Regions from separate parts of the Homo sapiens genome. Here region 2 is linked to region 1. The links come from fine-mapping of genetic effects on gene expression. Tissue or cell type: whole blood. Region 1 holds a variant in brackets; the other region holds the start of a gene. All regions are shown on one strand. Distances are from middle to middle.

Region 1 (8,101 bases):
GTTACAGAAAGAACTGTGCTAGCCCCTCCTCTGCAGGACAGGTGGGGCAAGTATATTAGTGGGAGGTGGGGTTGTTGGGACAAATGTTTGCATTTGGGAGGGATTTCTCATGATCATTGACTTTATTTTGATAATCCCCTCAGTTGATCCTTCCTGAGTGCATGAAGCTACTCCCAGTTTACCTGAACTGTGTGTTGAAGAGTGATGTCCTGCAGCCTGGAGCTGAAGTCACTACTGATGACCGTGCCTATGTCCGACAGCTAGTTACCTCCATGGATGTGACTGAGACCAATGTCTTCTTCTACCCTCGGCTCTTACCTTTGGTGCGATTGAGGGTTGGAGTATGAGATCTTGCACGGAGCAAAGGGCCTCTTAGGAGGAGGAAAGGATAGGCTAGTATCAGTCAGACACTAGTGGAATTTGTTTTTATGTATTTTAGCTGATGTAATTTTCACACTGAGAGAGTTACTGAGACCCCAGAAGGGGTGGTGTCTGAGGACTTAGCTTTCAAAATTTTGTGTGTGGTGCGGGGGGGCAGACTTGTCTTATGGTCCTTGGTAACCTTTTGCTCCCTTCCTTTTGTCTAGACAAAGTCTCCCGTTGAGAGTACTACCGAACCACCAGCAGTTCGAGCCTCTGAAGAGCGTCTAAGCAATGGGGATATATATTTACTGGAGAATGGGCTCAACCTCTTCCTCTGGGTGGGAGCAAGCGTCCAACAGGGTGTTGTCCAGAGCCTTTTCAGCGTCTCCTCCTTCAGTCAGATCACCAGTGGTTTGGTGAGGGCAGGGAGTCAAGGAGAATATGGGTGTGGAAGTATACTTTGTGAAACAATTGGGAGCCAATATAGTTAGTGTGCTAGTACCCTCAAATATCAGGGAACACTTGGGGACAAGGGCAGTTGCTGTCATTCTTCCCAGGTTTGCCTGTTTCAGATGATGCATACATGTATGCTGCCCCACCTTGACTGAACTCAGAGTGCCTTACCATAAGGATAAATGAATTTTGTGTTCTAGAGTGTTCTGCCAGTTCTGGATAATCCACTGTCCAAGAAGGTTCGAGGCCTCATTGATAGCTTACGGGCACAGAGATCCCGGTACATGAAGGTAACACTGATCTGAACCCTGGATTTCTTACCTTGTCAAGTCCTCACCTAGAAGTGGGGGTTGGGTGGGGAATGAGTAAGTGACTGCCTAATGAGATTTCTGGGCATGTTTAATTTCCTTTGGCCTTGCCTTATGAACCCTGAATTCTGGCCGTAGCTTACCGTGGTGAAACAGGAAGACAAGATGGAGATGCTGTTCAAGCACTTCCTGGTGGAAGACAAGAGTCTGAGTGGGGGAGCATCTTATGTGGACTTTCTCTGTCATATGCACAAGGAGATTCGGCAGCTACTGAGCTAAAGCAAGTGGGTAAATGGCATAGGGCCCAGGCTAGCTTCCAGAAAGCACCCCAGGATGTCAGAGAAATTGGGACAGTAACATATCTTATGTAAGCTGACCTCAGTCTCTCTGGGGGGAGGGGGAGATATAAGGAGACACCTTCTTTCTGGGCTCAAGTATCCTGCCACTCTGTCATGTCCTGCTGATGGAAGGTGCCCCTGTTCCCTCATTCTACCCTCTTTTTCCTGCTAATCCTGTCATAATGAATGTAGCTTCTCAGTTCACTGTATATGATTCGGTATTGGGGGTTTGGAGGCACCCAGACCCTGGCAATATTATGTGTCCCTTTGGACCAGTCTCCCAAGAGGAGAGGGGCAGGCAGGAAAGAGTGGGGATCCTAAGGTTACTACAGGGGGCTCAGTGTCATCCACAACTTCCTATATTAGGGATAAAACATATAGGTGCACAAGAGCTGGGGTATAGCCCATAGGTGGTGGAGAGAAAAGTGGTCAGTCCTTCTTGGGCCTGGAGGTTAGCAGTCAAGTTTCTCTGCTTTCACTGCTCGCTCGCTCTCTCCTGCAATGATTGATGATCACTCCGTGGATAGAGAGGCACACTGTCAGAGGTGACCGGAGAACTGAGTTGCAAAATATATTAAGATCTGGTAGAGGTACCAGCTTCCTTTCCAGCTGGAGAGGCCCCAACACTGGATGGTTCTGTAGGGAGCCTAGGGAGCCTGGTCATCAACTTGCAATACCTCACAGAGCCAGTTCACATCCCACTCTGAGCTCCCACGAGAAACACTGCTTCTCCAGGCCCGGGGTTGTTGGGGAGAGAGGCAGAGGCAGCTGGAGCGCCGTTCTCTCCTGCTGGGACACCGCTTGGGCTTTGGTATTGACTGAGTGGCTGACAGTTATCTTCCAACCCCAACTGGCTTGGGGGCAGGACAAGGGCTAGGCTTGATGGTGGCCAGGCTTGCCTGCTCCCCACCTGGGATGCCCCTGCTCTGGACCTCTCATTTCTCTTCATTGGTTTATTTTTCAATGCATCTTTAATTTGTAAAGAAATAAAATAAATTAAGATGTAACCATTAGCCTCATCTTTACTCCCGAAAGCTCACTTTGCTTTTAGTCCTGGCCGTCGGCTGAGCGAGCTGCGCATGCGCCACGTGCCCCCGTGGCGTAGGGCCTCGTCCGGTCACGACTATCCGCTGGGCGGGGTCGGTGCTGGCCGAGGGGGCGCCGGCTGCCGGAGTGGACATGGCGGCCGGCCCCATTAGGGTGGTGTTGGTCCTTCTAGGGGTGCTCAGTGTCTGTGCAGCCAGCGGCCATGGGTCCGTAGCGGAGAGGGAGGCCGGCGGGGAGGCGGAGTGGGCGGAACCGTGGGATGGCGCGGTTTTCCGGCCGCCCTCGGCGCTGGGCGCAGTGGGGGTGACGCGCAGCTCTGGGACGCCGCGGCCAGGGAGGGAGGAGGCGGGGGACTTGCCGGTACTGCTGTGGTGGAGCCCAGGGCTATTCCCCCACTTCCCGGGAGACTCGGAGCGCATCGAGTGTGCGCGCGGCGCGTGCGTGGCGTCCCGGAACCGCCGAGCGCTGAGGGACTCGCGGACGCGCGCGCTGCTCTTCTACGGCACAGACTTCCGCGCGTCGGCCGCCCCGCTGCCGCGCCTGGCGCACCAGAGCTGGGCGCTCCTCCACGAGGAGTCGCCCCTCAACAACTTCTTGCTGAGCCACGGCCCGGGCATCCGCCTCTTCAATCTTACCTCCACCTTCAGTCGCCACTCGGATTACCCGCTGTCGCTGCAGTGGCTGCCCGGGACCGCCTATCTGCGCCGCCCGGTGCCTCCGCCCATGGAACGCGCGGAGTGGCGCCGCCGCGGCTACGCGCCGCTGCTCTATCTGCAGTCACACTGCGACGTGCCAGCGGACCGGGACCGCTACGTGCGCGAGCTCATGCGCCACATCCCGGTGAGTGAGGGCGGGCCGGAGGGAAGGAAAAGGAGAGGGCGGGTTGAGGCCAGGACTCCAGGTGTCCAGGACTCCAGGTGTCCAGGACTCCAGGTGTCCAGGCCTCCAGGGCCGCACCCTCATGACAGCCTTACTGTACCCGGTCTAGGTAGACTCCTACGGGAAATGCCTGCAGAATCGGGAGCTGCCTACCGCGCGGCTACAGGACACAGCCACGGCCACCACCGAGGATCCAGAGCTCTTGGCTTTCTTGTCCCGCTATAAGTTCCACTTGGCCCTGGAAAATGCCATCTGTAACGACTACATGACAGAAAAACTGTGGCGTCCCATGCACCTGGGCGCTGTGCCCGTGTACCGCGGTTCTCCCTCTGTGAGGGACTGGATGCCGAACAATCACTCCGTCATCCTGATTGATGATTTTGAGTCTCCTCAGAAGCTGGCAGAGTTTATTGACTTTCTGGACAAGAATGATGAGGAGTATATGAAATACCTGGCATACAAGCAACCTGGGGGCATCACCAACCAATTTCTTCTGGATAGTCTGAAGCATCGGGAGTGGGGAGTGAATGATCCTTTGCTGCCTAACTACCTCAACGGCTTCGAGTGTTTCGTCTGTGACTACGAACTGGCTCGGCTGGATGCCGAGAA[A/G]GCCCACGCGGCCTCTCCCGGGGACAGCCCCGTCTTTGAGCCCCACATTGCCCAGCCCTCACACATGGACTGCCCAGTGCCCACACCTGGCTTTGGCAATGTGGAAGAGATTCCTGAGAATGACAGGTAAGAGTGCTGGGGTCCCCTGCAGCTATCAAATCATTTACTTACTTGCTTACTGTGGGCAATTAAGTAGCACTAGGTGCTGAGCAGGTGCAGGAGGAAATTATCACATGGGCTCATTCTGTATTTAAGGTGTCAACAGTCTAGTTGGGGGGATAAGACAAGCTGAAAAAGCTGAATAGATGTAAAATATAATTCAAGGCAACGTATGAAAATCAGCTTATGTGAACAATGTTTCCAGTAGTGGTTCAAAAAGATTGAACCAGAGTACAGGGCCTGTGCAGACAGGGGAGAGAGAAAATGGGGCAAATAAATAGGGACAAGGCTATAAATATCATTAATACCAGGTTCAGGAGTTTGCACTGCACTAAAAATCAACTCAGCTATTTGAGCACCTTTTATAGAGTGGAAATGGGGTTGGGCAGTAGAGAAGAGCACTTTTAGAGAGGCTTTTCTGCAGTAGTCAGGGGTTACACCTGTTAACCAGCCATAATTTTTTTTTTTAAGCGGCTGTGCTGAGGATGAGCCCCATGTAGTTGGTGCAGGTGGGGACACACTGCCTGTGTAACTAGAAAAACTAGGCATGGCCGGGCACGGTGGCTCACACCTGTAATCCCAGCACTTTGGGAGGTCAAGGGGGGAGGAACACTTGAGGCCAGAGACAATATAATATATAATATAATATATTGACCAGCCTGGACAATATAATAAGAGCCTCTCTGTACAATTTAAAAACTAAAAGCCTGGGGTGGTGGCACATACCTGTAGTCCTGGCTACTTGGGAGGCTGTGGCAGGTGGATTGCTTGAACCTAGGAGTTCAATGCTGTAGTGAGCTAGGATCGTGCCACTGCATTCCAGCCTGGGTTGGAGTAAGACCCTGTCACACACACACACACACACAAAACAATGCACAATGCGCATCAGAAGGGAAGCGAATAGGCTACTGTAGTAGGTGGCAAAAGGTGGTGGTACTGGGAAACAAGGCCAGCGTGTGGTGTGGGGTGGGAAAATGTTGAAACCACTTGTAGCAAGCCACACCTATTGGGGGAGAGGTGATAAGATTATTAAGCTGAAGTAAGGCTGCTAGAATGGCCTATAGAAACCGACTTGGACAGTGGATGGCAGCAGAAGGCCATTTATTAACAGATGCTGCTGGCAGTTTTGTCCTGATGGTTGGAATCCTTCACCAAGTAATTTGTATCTAATTACAAATTGTTTGTATCTGAACATAATATGATTTACTAGAGGAAAAGTATGAAAAAATATGAAACATTAAGAAAATAAATATTCAGGTTATGTCTTTTCTAGATACTGGATGCTACTTCATTTTGATGCACCTTCATTTTGATTATTGGCATAAAGGTGAAACTTAAAAGATAATCATCTAAAGACCCCTGCCCCCTTGCTTTCCTTATGGAGACTGCCACTTCCAGTCTGGCCTCTGCTTTGCCTGCCTCTGAACCCCCTCCACATTTGGGAGCCAGAAGCAGGCAAGTCAGGAATCGTAATTGATTGGGTAGTCTGTGTGATGTCTTTGTGTTTGTGACTTACTGCCTGTCGCTTGGGCTTATATTGGATTTACTTCACTTTGTCTTCCTTTCACAGCAGTCTTGTCCAAGTTAGAGACCACTGTATCTGCTTAAGATTTCTTTGGCCCCACTCGGAAAAAGGCAGGACTCATAACTATGCTGCAGTTCCATAATCCAACCCCCATTTTGATATTTCAGTTGGAAAGAGATGTGGCTGCAAGATTATTGGCAAGGTCTGGACCAGGGGGAAGCTCTCACTGCCATGATCCACAACAATGAAACAGAGCAGACGAAATTTTGGGATTACCTACATGAAATCTTCATGAAGAGGCAACATCTCTAAGTGCCCTTGCAAGAGCCTTTAACTTGGCGGAGCTAAGGAGATCTTATTCTACCATGGGACATAAGGAGCATCCACTGCACAAACCCTTAATGAACACTGTCTTTTCATGGATTCAAGGAATTCCAGTTTTATCTATTAAGATTTTATCTTAATGATGAGTAGCCAAGGTCTAACATAGGGCCTCTCCTCAAGGAGAGATGGAGGGATACAATTCTTGGTTCAGTGGGAAACAGAACCCTAAAACATCCATTTGATTCAAGGTGCTGGTCCAACAGAGTTTTTAAACTACTCACTTCTTTATTTCATCCTTTCGACTGTACTTGATTACCAGTGAAGTAAGATGGGTCAGGTTACGACTTACAACTTTTGTTCTATTCCCCAGACTCCTCATTATTCAGTACATTTCCCAATAATCTCTTTTTCTCATCTCTTGCTTTATAAATTGTTACGTTGGTGGAGAAGCAAAACATTTGGTGAGTTGTATTCTGGTTTTCCGGAGTTGGATTTTTTTATATTATATACTTTCATGTCAAACTTCTATTTTACTTATTTATTTATTTTTTTAAAATATTTTTTGTAGAGATGAGGTTTTGCCACATTGCCCAGGTTGGTCTCCAACTCCTGGATCAAGCAATCCATCCGCCTTGACCTCCCAGAGTGCTGGGTTTACAGGCATCAGCCACCTCACCCAGCCCTAATTTTTTTTTTTTTTTTGGCTTTTTCTGGCCAGGCGTAGTGGCTTATGCCTGTAATCCCAACACTTTGGGAGGCCGAGGAGAGGCGACTGCTTGAAGCCAGGAGTTTGAGACCATCCTAGCAAGACCTTGTCTCTAAAAAATAAAAGAATTAGCAGGGCATGGTGGTGCACACCTGTAGCCCTAGATACTTGGGAGGTTGAGGCAGGAGGATCACTTGAGTCCAGGAATTTAAGGCTGCAATGAGCTATGATCATGATCACTGCACTCCAGCCTGGGTGACAGAGCGAGACACCGTCTCAAATTATATATATATATTAAGATGGAGTCTTGCTTTGTCACCAGCTGGAGTGCAGTGGCATGATCTCGGGTCACTGCAACCTCCACCTCCCTGGTTCAAGCGATTCTCCTGCCTCAGCCTCCTGAGTAGCTGGGACTACAGGCATGCACCACCACGCCCAGCTAATTTTTTGTATTTCTAGTAGAGACAGGGTTTCGCCATGTTGGCAAGGATAGTCTCGATTTCTTGACTTCGTGATCCGCCCGCCTTGGCCTCCCAAAGTGCTGGGATTACAGGTGTCAGCCACCGCACCCGGCCTCAAATACATTTTTTTAATGGCCTTGTCTTTCCTGGTTTTAGGCCCTTTTCCACAATTTCTGATGGAAATACAGAAACCTTGCCATCATTCTTACTGCTGGTTTGCATCTCATTTATGGTGTATCTGGGATTTCTTCTCATGAACAGAAAGATTCAGTGGCTGTTATATGCCTTGTCAATTTAATGTATTGCCCTATCCTCTTTTTGATCAAAGATAGAGACTAAGACTGGGAATTATGACAGAAAAAGTCATATTTTTCTTTAAATGATTTTGAAATGTTAAAATAGGCCAATATGAGTCAAAGTGCAAATTTTTTGGTGAGTAGGTTGACAAAAAAAAAAAAAAATCCAGGAAAAAAAGTGCAAATTTTTATAGGTCCTAATTCTTTTGTTTGCCTAATGAAGTGTTCCCTCTATTTTATTGTTTTTATATGCTACAAAGTCCCATCTTCTGCAGTTATGGAAACAGTGTGGCTGTATGTTTTAGTAATTATTTCATAATCTGTAGCACTTTTCACTTTAAGTGCAATGAATAGTCCAGCTTCATTCACTGTATTACTAATACGCTTCCCTATGACTTTTTTTTTTTTTTTGAGATGGAGTTTCGCTCTTGTTGCCCAGGCTGGAGTGCAGTGGCGCGATCTCAGCTTACTAGAATCTCTGCATTCCCAGTTCAAGTGATTCTCCTGCCTCAGCCTCCCTAGTAGTGGGGATTACAGGCGCCCGTCACCACATCTAGCTAATTTTTGTATTTTTAGTAGAGATGGGGTTTCACCATGTTGGCCAGTCTGGTGTCGAACTCCTGAGCTCAGGTG
Region 2 (8,101 bases), 29 kb after region 1:
GGATGGGCACCTGACACCCCCTGAGGTTGCATCCCTGGCTGACAGGGCATCACGGGCAAGAGACTCCAATATGGTGAGGGCGGCAGCAGAGCTGGCCCTGAGCTGCCTGCCTCACGCCCATGCATTGAACCCTAATGAGATCCAGCGGGCCCTGGTGCAGTGCAAGGAACAGGTATTTCTACGGGCAATCTGGGAACCTCTTCTGGGGCATCTGGGCAGGGAGGTTGGGCATGGGAAAGCTAAGGGCCCAGCTCTTGATTCCCGTATCCTGGAGTTTACAGATGATTGTTGGTCCTCTCATGGCAACATTTTACCCATTAATGTGCTTTCACACCCATCTTTCCTTTACCTTACAACTCAAAGGTTAGGTTTATTTCTATTTTACAGATAAGGAAATGGAGGCCTACGGTTTAGGGACCAAGATGATCACTCAGGATAGAAAACTTAGGGAAGGCCTCATACATCTAAGACTTGAATGGGAGGGGGCTGTTAAATTAGTTTGGAACTGGGACTATAACCTGGGTCTTGACTCATTTTGGTCAGTATTTACTCAGTGTGTGAAGCACTCACTGCTCTGATAATGGACTCTAAGCATTGACACTGACCTCTGATGATTCCCTGGGAATGAGACAGCTCTGAGGGAGACATTGGAATCTCATCTAACACCTTCCATGTGGTAAAGGCCTTTCCCCCTTAACACTCTGTGCCCCTCTCTTCCAGGACAACCTGATGTTGGAGAAGGCCTGCATGGCAGTGGAAGAGGCAGCTAAGGGTGGGGGCGTGTACCCTGAAGTGTTGTTTGAGGTTGCTCACCAGTGGTTCTGGCTGTATGAGCAAACTGCAGGTGGCTCATCCACAGCCCGTGAAGGGGCTACAAGCTGTAGTGCCAGTGGGATCAGGGCAGGTGGGGAAGCTGGGCGGGGTATGCCTGAGGGTAGAGGGGGCCCAGGGACTGAGCCGGTTACAGTGGCAGCGGCAGCAGTGACAGCAGCAGCCACAGTGGTGCCCGTCATATCGGTGGGGTCTAGTTTATACCCGGGTCCAGGACTGGGGCATGGCCACTCCCCTGGCCTGCACCCCTACACTGCTCTACAGCCCCACCTGCCCTGTAGCCCTCAGTATCTCACTCACCCAGCTCACCCTGCCCACCCCATGCCTCACATGCCCCGGCCTGCCGTCTTCCCTGTGCCCAGCTCTGCATACCCACAGGTGAGACCAGTGTTCTGCTGGGGGGTAAGGCATGGGAAAATACTGGGAATTCATAGGGGGTTGGAGTGGGTACTCTGGGAGTATAATTGGTCAGTCGGAGAGTCCTGGTGAGGTGGTGGGAGTCTGGGGGACCCAGCCCAACTAAAATAAGAAATGACGGCCGGGCATGGTGGCTCATGCCTGTAATCCCAGCACTTTGAGAGGCCGATGTGGGTGGATCACTTGAGGTCAGGAGTTCGAGACCAGCCTGGCCAACATGGGGAAACCCCGTCTCTACTAAAAATTAGCTGAGTGCACGCCTGTAATCCCAGCTTCTTGGGAGGCTGAGATGGGAATCACTTGAACCTGGGAGGCAGAGGTTGCAGTGAGCCGATATCGTGCCACTGCACTCCAGCCTGGAGGACAGAGCGAGACTCTATCTCAAAAAAAACATGTCAGGATAGCAGCTTGTGGGGGTGAAGCACGACAGCAACATCCTAATCAAGTTTGGCATCTTCCCCTTTCTTCTCCCTGCCCCTAGGGTGTGCATCCTGCATTCCTAGGGGCTCAGTACCCTTATTCAGTGACTCCTCCCTCACTTGCTGCCACTGCTGTGTCTTTCCCCGTTCCTTCCATGGCACCCATCACAGTACATCCCTACCACACAGAGCCAGGGCTTCCACTGCCCACCAGTGTGGCCTGTGAGTTGTGGGGCCAGGGAACAGGTGAATGGAGGGGAGGCACACTGGGCAGGGGAGGTGGGGAGGGAATGTTCTTTGTCTCTCTTTGGGCTCTGAGTTCCTCACATGGCTCTCACCCCACTTAGTGAGCAGTGTCCATCCAGCATCCACGTTTCCAGCCATCCAAGGTGCCTCACTGCCTGCCCTGACCACACAGCCCAGCCCTCTGGTGAGCGGAGGTTTTCCACCGCCCGAGGAGGAGACACACAGTCAGCCAGTCAATCCCCACAGCCTGCACCACCTGCATGCTGCCTACCGTGTCGGTGAGAGGACATCCCTTTCTGTGCTCCTACCTGCAGTTGTGCCAGTGGCTCTTCAGAGGACCCTTCCTCTAGCTCTTCATTTGTTTACTGTGGGGTCAGGTGACAGGTTGGGGTAAAGGGTGAAGAGGATACACCGTACCATGTGCCCACCCTTATCTATCTCCCAGGAATGCTGGCACTGGAGATGCTGGGTCGCCGGGCACACAACGATCACCCCAACAACTTCTCCCGCTCCCCCCCCTACACTGATGATGTCAAATGGTTGCTGGGGCTGGCAGCAAAGCTGGGTAACACCTCCCCTCCCTAGGACCATTGCCCCCCCCCCACCTGCTCTCCCCACCTTCCTTATCCCAGACCTCCTTCCTAGCTCTTGCTCAGAGTTGAGGCCTTGGTCGGGTATGTGTGCGTGCGCGGGGGGCGGAGGGTTACCTCAGCTCCTGGGGTGGAGGGAGGCTCTCTGCCAGGCCAGAGCTGAGATCTGTAAGTTGGGTCCCTAGGGCAGAGGTGGCCACCCCCGTCTCATGCCCCTCCCCCTGCCCCCCAGGAGTGAACTACGTGCACCAGTTCTGTGTGGGGGCAGCCAAGGGGGTGCTGAGCCCGTTTGTGCTGCAGGAGATCGTCATGGAGACGCTGCAGCGGCTGAGTCCCGCTCATGCCCACAACCACCTGCGTGCCCCGGCCTTCCACCAACTGGTGCAGCGCTGCCAGCAGGCATACATGCAGGTGACAACCTAGAATTATGGAGCAGGGTGGAGCACTTCCTGGGTGGTCTTGGACCAGAGGGAGGCAGGGCCTGTTTCTGTGCTTTGTACTAAGGCTCATCCTGCACACATCCTCCTCCAGTACATCCACCACCGCTTGATTCACCTGACTCCTGCGGACTACGACGACTTTGTGAATGCGATCCGGAGTGCCCGCAGCGCCTTCTGCCTGACGCCCATGGGCATGATGCAGTTCAACGACATCCTACAGAACCTCAAGCGCAGCAAACAGACCAAGGAGCTGTGGCAGCGGGTCTCACTCGAGATGGCCACCTTCTCCCCCTGAGTCTTTCACCCTTAGGGTCCTATACAGGGACCCAGGCCTGTGGCTATGGGGGCCCCTCACACAGGGGGAGTGAAACTTGGCTGGACAGATCATCCTCACTCAGTTCCCTGGTAGCACAGACTGACAGCTGCTCTTGGGCTATAGCTTGGGGCCAAGATGTCTCACACCCTAGAAGCCTAGGGCTGGGGGAGACAGCCCTGTCTGGGAGGGGGCGTTGGGTGGCCTCTGGTATTTATTTGGCATTTATAAATATATAAACTCCTTTTTTACTCTAGTCGACCTGGGCCTTTCCCTTCTTTCCAAATTCCATGTGCAGATGAACCTTCAACTGGGGAGGAAACTTCTGACACTTGCTTTAGTCTAGGTTTTTCCCACTCCAGGGAGGCAGACAAAACAGAAAAATAAGGATGTTTATTAAGGACATTTCTAGCCCACAGCTAGGGCTCATACTCGGCTCTATGAGCCACTGTCCGACCTCATCCCCATTCAATGTGAATGACATTAGGGAGGCCGGGCCACAGGTAGATCCCACTGCCTGGCTAAAGGGGCCATAGCAAGGGGTCCCTCCCATGCAAGGGGTCTCTCCCATAGCCAGGTATAGAATAGATACACTGCTGCGGATGAAGAGGGAAATCTCATTGGACTAATACATTCCCCTACACCCTGCCTGGACCCTCTCATTCCTCCCCACCTCCCAAGATGATGGGTCAAAGGTACCTAGCACTATTATGTGGGGTACCAAAGGAAGCCCCTTTATTTGTCCCAGAACTGTGGGAAAAGGATACCCTTCCCTTCTCAGCCATCTCAGGCCTGGGGGCTACTGAGGTAGAGGGGGAGGGGCCAGGCCACTCTAATCCCCCTTGTGGGCCCTGCTCTGGACCTGCCCCTTAGGGAAGCAGGGGGCATTTTGCTGGTATGGGAGGCTGGGACATCAGCCCAGACTGGAATGCTGCAGTTCTTCCCGAAGCCACGAGGGCACTGGCTGTCCAAGCCGGCTCAGCAGCTTCGACAACTCCAAATTATGGTTCCGGAAAAAATCCGTAAGGAAAAGACGGGACTGACAGGAGAAAATGAAGGCAGAAATGGTAAGAAGTGGGACACAGAATCAGATCCTGGAAGTGGAGAGGGATTCCCCTGCCCCTGGCTTTACTTACCTCAGTGTCCATATCTGGATACCTCCGGCCTTTGCTCCGGCCTAGACAGCGAGTCTTACCACCTTCAAGTCCCTGGCACCAAAATCCCTTATCATCATCAAACCTGCTCAACAGGAAGAGGCCATGAGGTGGCAGGGAAAAGAGAAACTCAAGTTCCATAAATGCACAATGCCCTTCCCTGCCCACAGGGACATGTCTCTCCTTGTGAGACAGAGTAAATCTATGTCTCTAACAGACATGGTCAACCTGCTTCCCCATTTCCCATACAGTACTCCTCCCCTGGGTCATGCTCTCCCACCTGAGGGTCCGTGTGTAGTTCAGAAAGGGTGTGATACCCAGGAACTTCTGGATGCTCTCCATTGAGGCTGCTGGGTTGGTACGCAGCTCTTGCCCATCCACAATCAGCAACTAAAAGGACAGGGATGTGGTTCCCTCTATATTCCTAAGAAGCCTCTGGGCTGAAGGGAAGAAGAGGGGAAGGGGAACCCCACTGAGGGCTCTTGTGGGGATTATACCTGTCCAGAGGGGTAGTAAGTCAGCCAGCGTTGTAGATGGGTAGAATAGTAGCCAGGGACAAGACAGCGGTTCTGCAGGGAGCGTAGTGCCAGAGGGGTCTGGGAGGAGGCTGAAATCACCTGATAGAAGGTATAGTTCAGAGCAACTGGGTCTCCATGGGCTCGCTGATGCTGAAGGACAAAGAGAAGGAAGGTGAAGGACTGGTGATTTGACAGTATTCTGCCCTTACGCTTGGTCTGGAGACAGACAGCACAGCACGGGTACCCGTCCCCAAGGCACTAGTTAAGTTTCTCAAACCTCACTCCTTTCTCCCTCTCTAGCAGTCACTGTCCCCTCCCCCCTCCCCCCAACCTTTAGCCTGTGTGTCCCTAGCTTCAGGCAGACCTGGTACCAGGAGTAGGCCCTGTCAGCAGGGTTGGTGAGCACTGTGATGATCTTGGCTCGTGGCAGGAGGGCAGCCCCCCGCCGTGGTACAACTTCAGAGTCAAAGTAGGTGGCACTTTTTTCAAATAGGAAATCAGTGCTGGCATTGGAAGGAACAGGGAAGAAATCCATGTACCTAGGAAGTAGCACAGAAGAGAGAGAAGCAGAAAAATATGCAGAGTGAAGTGGCCAGAAGTCTGTGCTGAGGGAAGCTGGAATGGGGTATTTTGGGGGAAGGGAGTGTTCCTCTGAGAAACATTCAAATGGGGCCCAGTCTCACCAGTCAATACCCTTGTGGTAATTAGGGCTGTTGAAGAACTGAATCTCCTCAAATGTGCTGGGGCTAGGGAAGCTGCTAGTTACAGCTGGGTGCAGGCTCAGGAAGAAGTGAATAGCTGTAGTCCCTAAATGGGAGAGAAAGACCAGCTTCAGGCAGCCATTGTGGGAGGGAAGCCAGCTCAACAGCATAAGCTTGAAGGAAGTGAAAAAATAACCACTCTGGGTAGGAAAATCCCCTATGGCCAAACTACAATGATAGGAGGCAAGTCTGAGAGAGGCCCAGGGAAGGGCTAAAACAGTGGTTCTCTGCTTTAACTGTGCACCAGAATGACTTGTGATCTTGTAAAAACACCACAGATGATTCTGATATACAACCAGGGTTAGGAATCACTGCCTCAAGAGACTGGATCAATGAGGGGTGGGTATAAAAGGAGTTCCTTTTTTTCTCTCTTAAAAATTCAAATTAAGGCCGGGTGCGGTGGCTCATGCCTGTAATCCCAGCACTTTGGGAGGCCAAGGCAGGCGGATCACTTGAGGTCAAGAGTTCGAGACCAGCCTGGCCAACATGGTGAAACCCCGTCTCTACTAAAAATACAAAAATTAGCCAGGTGTGGTGGCACCTGCCTGTAATCCCAGCTACTAGGGAAGCTGAGCAGAATTGCCTGAACCTGGGAGGTGGAGGTTGTAGTGAGCTGAGATCGTGCCACTGCGCTCCAGCCTGGGCAAAGAAGTGAGACTCTTATCTCAAAAAAAAAAAAATTATTAAAATTAAAAATACTTTTTTCACTCCTGTGATTACCTGGAGAGAGAAGAGAGTTCCTTGACAAAAGGATCCTTTGGGTTTAAGGCAGGGCAAGAGAAGTTAGCTAAGGATACTTCACCTGTTTTCTGGGGTCCCACAATGAGGAACTTCGGGAGACGATCACAGGTTTTCTCCTTGGACCAGATATCTTTGTGCCTCTTGTCATCACAGGGATTCTGAAGCCAGGGCCAATAATCAGATAAGGCCTATTTTTTTTTTTTTTTTGAGACGGAGTTTCGTTCTTGTTGCCCAGGCTGGAGTGCAATGCATGATCTCGGCTCACTGCAACCTCCGCCTCCTGGGTTCAAGCAATTCTCTTGCCTCAGCCTTCTGAGTAGCTGGGATTATAGGCAATGTGCCACCATGTCCGGCTAATTTTGTGTTTTTAGTAGAGACAGGGTTTCTCCAAGTTGGTCAGGTTAGTCTCAGACTCCTGACCTCAGGTGATCTGCCTGCCTCGGCCTCCCAAAGTGCTGGGATTACAGGCATGAGCCACCGTGCCCGGCCTGGCCTAGTCTTCTCTTAAACCCCCACCCCGGCTGGGCGCAGTGGCTTACATATGTAATCCCAGCACTTTGGGAGGCTGAGGCGGGCGGATCACCTGCAGTCAGGAGTTCGAGACCAGCCTGACCAACATGGTGAAACCCCGTCTCTACTAAAAATACAAAAAATTAGCCGGGCGTGGTGGCGGGTGCGTGTAATCCCAGCTACTAGGGAGGCTGAGGCAGGAGAATCGCTTGAACCTGGGAGGTGGAGGTTGCAATGAGCAGAGATTGTGCCATTGTACTCTAGCCTGGGTGACAGAGCGAGATTCTGTCTCAAAACAACAACAACAACAACAAAAAACACCCCACCCCTATCATGTCTCTCATCAGACTGAGCTCCACCTTTACCTGCCAAAGGGGGCTTCGCTCCTGAGGGAAAAGTTCAAAGTACTTCTGTGCAAGTGGGACAGGAGGAAGGGTCTGTAGGCGCAGCCGTGTCCAACACTGGAGGAAGCGCACCAAGCTCTCAAAGGTGTATAGGCCCAGCCGGTCATTTCCATAATTGGACAGATGGGTCATAAAGATGCTGATCTGTAAGGGGTACCTGCATGTCAGATTTGGAGAGCCTACCCCACCTCTGAATTAGCCTTGGTGAATAAAGGTCCCAGCCTGCAAACACCTTGGCTCTCCAATCTTCTAGCCGTTCCTCTCAGCACCTTACCGGATTAAGCAGCACTGTCAGAAAGAGCTCTCCACCTCGGATGCTCCGGTCTAGTTCACGAGAGCCTCCAGGATACTCATTATAGAAGATTGTGTGAGTGAAGAGGCCACATGTCTGCCGGGGCAGCACCTGGAGGGAAAAGAAAAAACAGATGAGATTTGAAAGATAGAATGAGAAGTAGATGGAGGACACTGGGATTTATAGAGGACTGAGTCTGAAGTTATAGCAATAAAGCTCTTACTGAGGGTGTTAAAATTTTTTCACCTTTCTACCCCCAATTATGTACCCCCATACTTGGACTGGCAGTTGATAGAGAACATAGGTCAATGCATGTTGAAAGCTGTCTAAATGTTAGAGTTTGATTCAAGCCTGTATTGGGAGTCCCTCACCATAATGCCATTGTGAATGAAGCCACGGCGGTAGCGGGCAGGGCGGAGATGGGGATACTCCTCAGTGCTGGTCACCTGGATGCCCCACACGGAT

What was found. PIP is the estimated chance that this variant, and not a neighbour inherited with it, causes the effect.
Region 2: it holds the start of ZSWIM8-AS1, and the variant in region 1 is fine-mapped to the expression of ZSWIM8-AS1 in whole blood (TOPMed, PIP above 0.99).

The regions. Positions count from the first base shown.
Region 1 is chr10:73,769,693-73,777,793 of GRCh38, forward strand. SEC24C (SEC24 homolog C, COPII component) reads left to right here. Exons shown (of 23, transcript NM_198597.3): 19 at 1-41; 20 at 144-323; 21 at 588-779; 22 at 1,017-1,106; 23 at 1,263-2,469. The coding sequence ends at 1,403. It overlaps POFUT4 (protein O-fucosyltransferase 4), which reads left to right and starts at 2,584. Exons shown (of 3, transcript NM_173540.3): 1 at 2,584-3,349; 2 at 3,498-4,123; 3 at 5,849-6,527. The coding sequence starts at 2,642. The coding sequence ends at 5,993. RefSeq lists enhancers at 2,306-2,485, 3,076-3,185, 3,471-4,001, 3,846-3,895 and a silencer at 2,816-2,865. The variant A/G (reference allele first, on the strand shown) is at 3,998.
Region 2 is chr10:73,798,282-73,806,382 of GRCh38, forward strand. ZSWIM8-AS1 (ZSWIM8 antisense RNA 1) reads right to left here and starts at 3,118. Exons shown (of 4, transcript NR_038357.1): 1 at 3,059-3,118; 2 at 2,222-2,278. It overlaps ZSWIM8 (zinc finger SWIM-type containing 8), which reads left to right. Exons shown (of 26, transcript NM_001367799.1): 20 at 1-172; 21 at 721-1,209; 22 at 1,730-1,889; 23 at 2,015-2,191; 24 at 2,359-2,478; 25 at 2,736-2,914; 26 at 3,035-3,512. The coding sequence ends at 3,238. NDST2 (N-deacetylase and N-sulfotransferase 2) reads right to left here. Exons shown (of 15, transcript NM_003635.4): 6 at 8,008-8,101; 7 at 7,619-7,747; 8 at 7,306-7,488; 9 at 6,492-6,588; 10 at 5,612-5,735; 11 at 5,293-5,467; 12 at 4,908-5,078; 13 at 4,691-4,800; 14 at 4,393-4,495; 15 at 3,635-4,295. The coding sequence ends at 4,170. NDST2-ZSWIM8-AS1 (NDST2-ZSWIM8-AS1 readthrough) reads right to left here. Exons shown (of 18, transcript NR_182658.1): 6 at 8,008-8,101; 7 at 7,619-7,747; 8 at 7,306-7,488; 9 at 6,492-6,588; 10 at 5,612-5,735; 11 at 5,293-5,467; 12 at 4,908-5,078; 13 at 4,691-4,800; 14 at 4,393-4,495; 15 at 3,059-4,295; 16 at 2,222-2,278.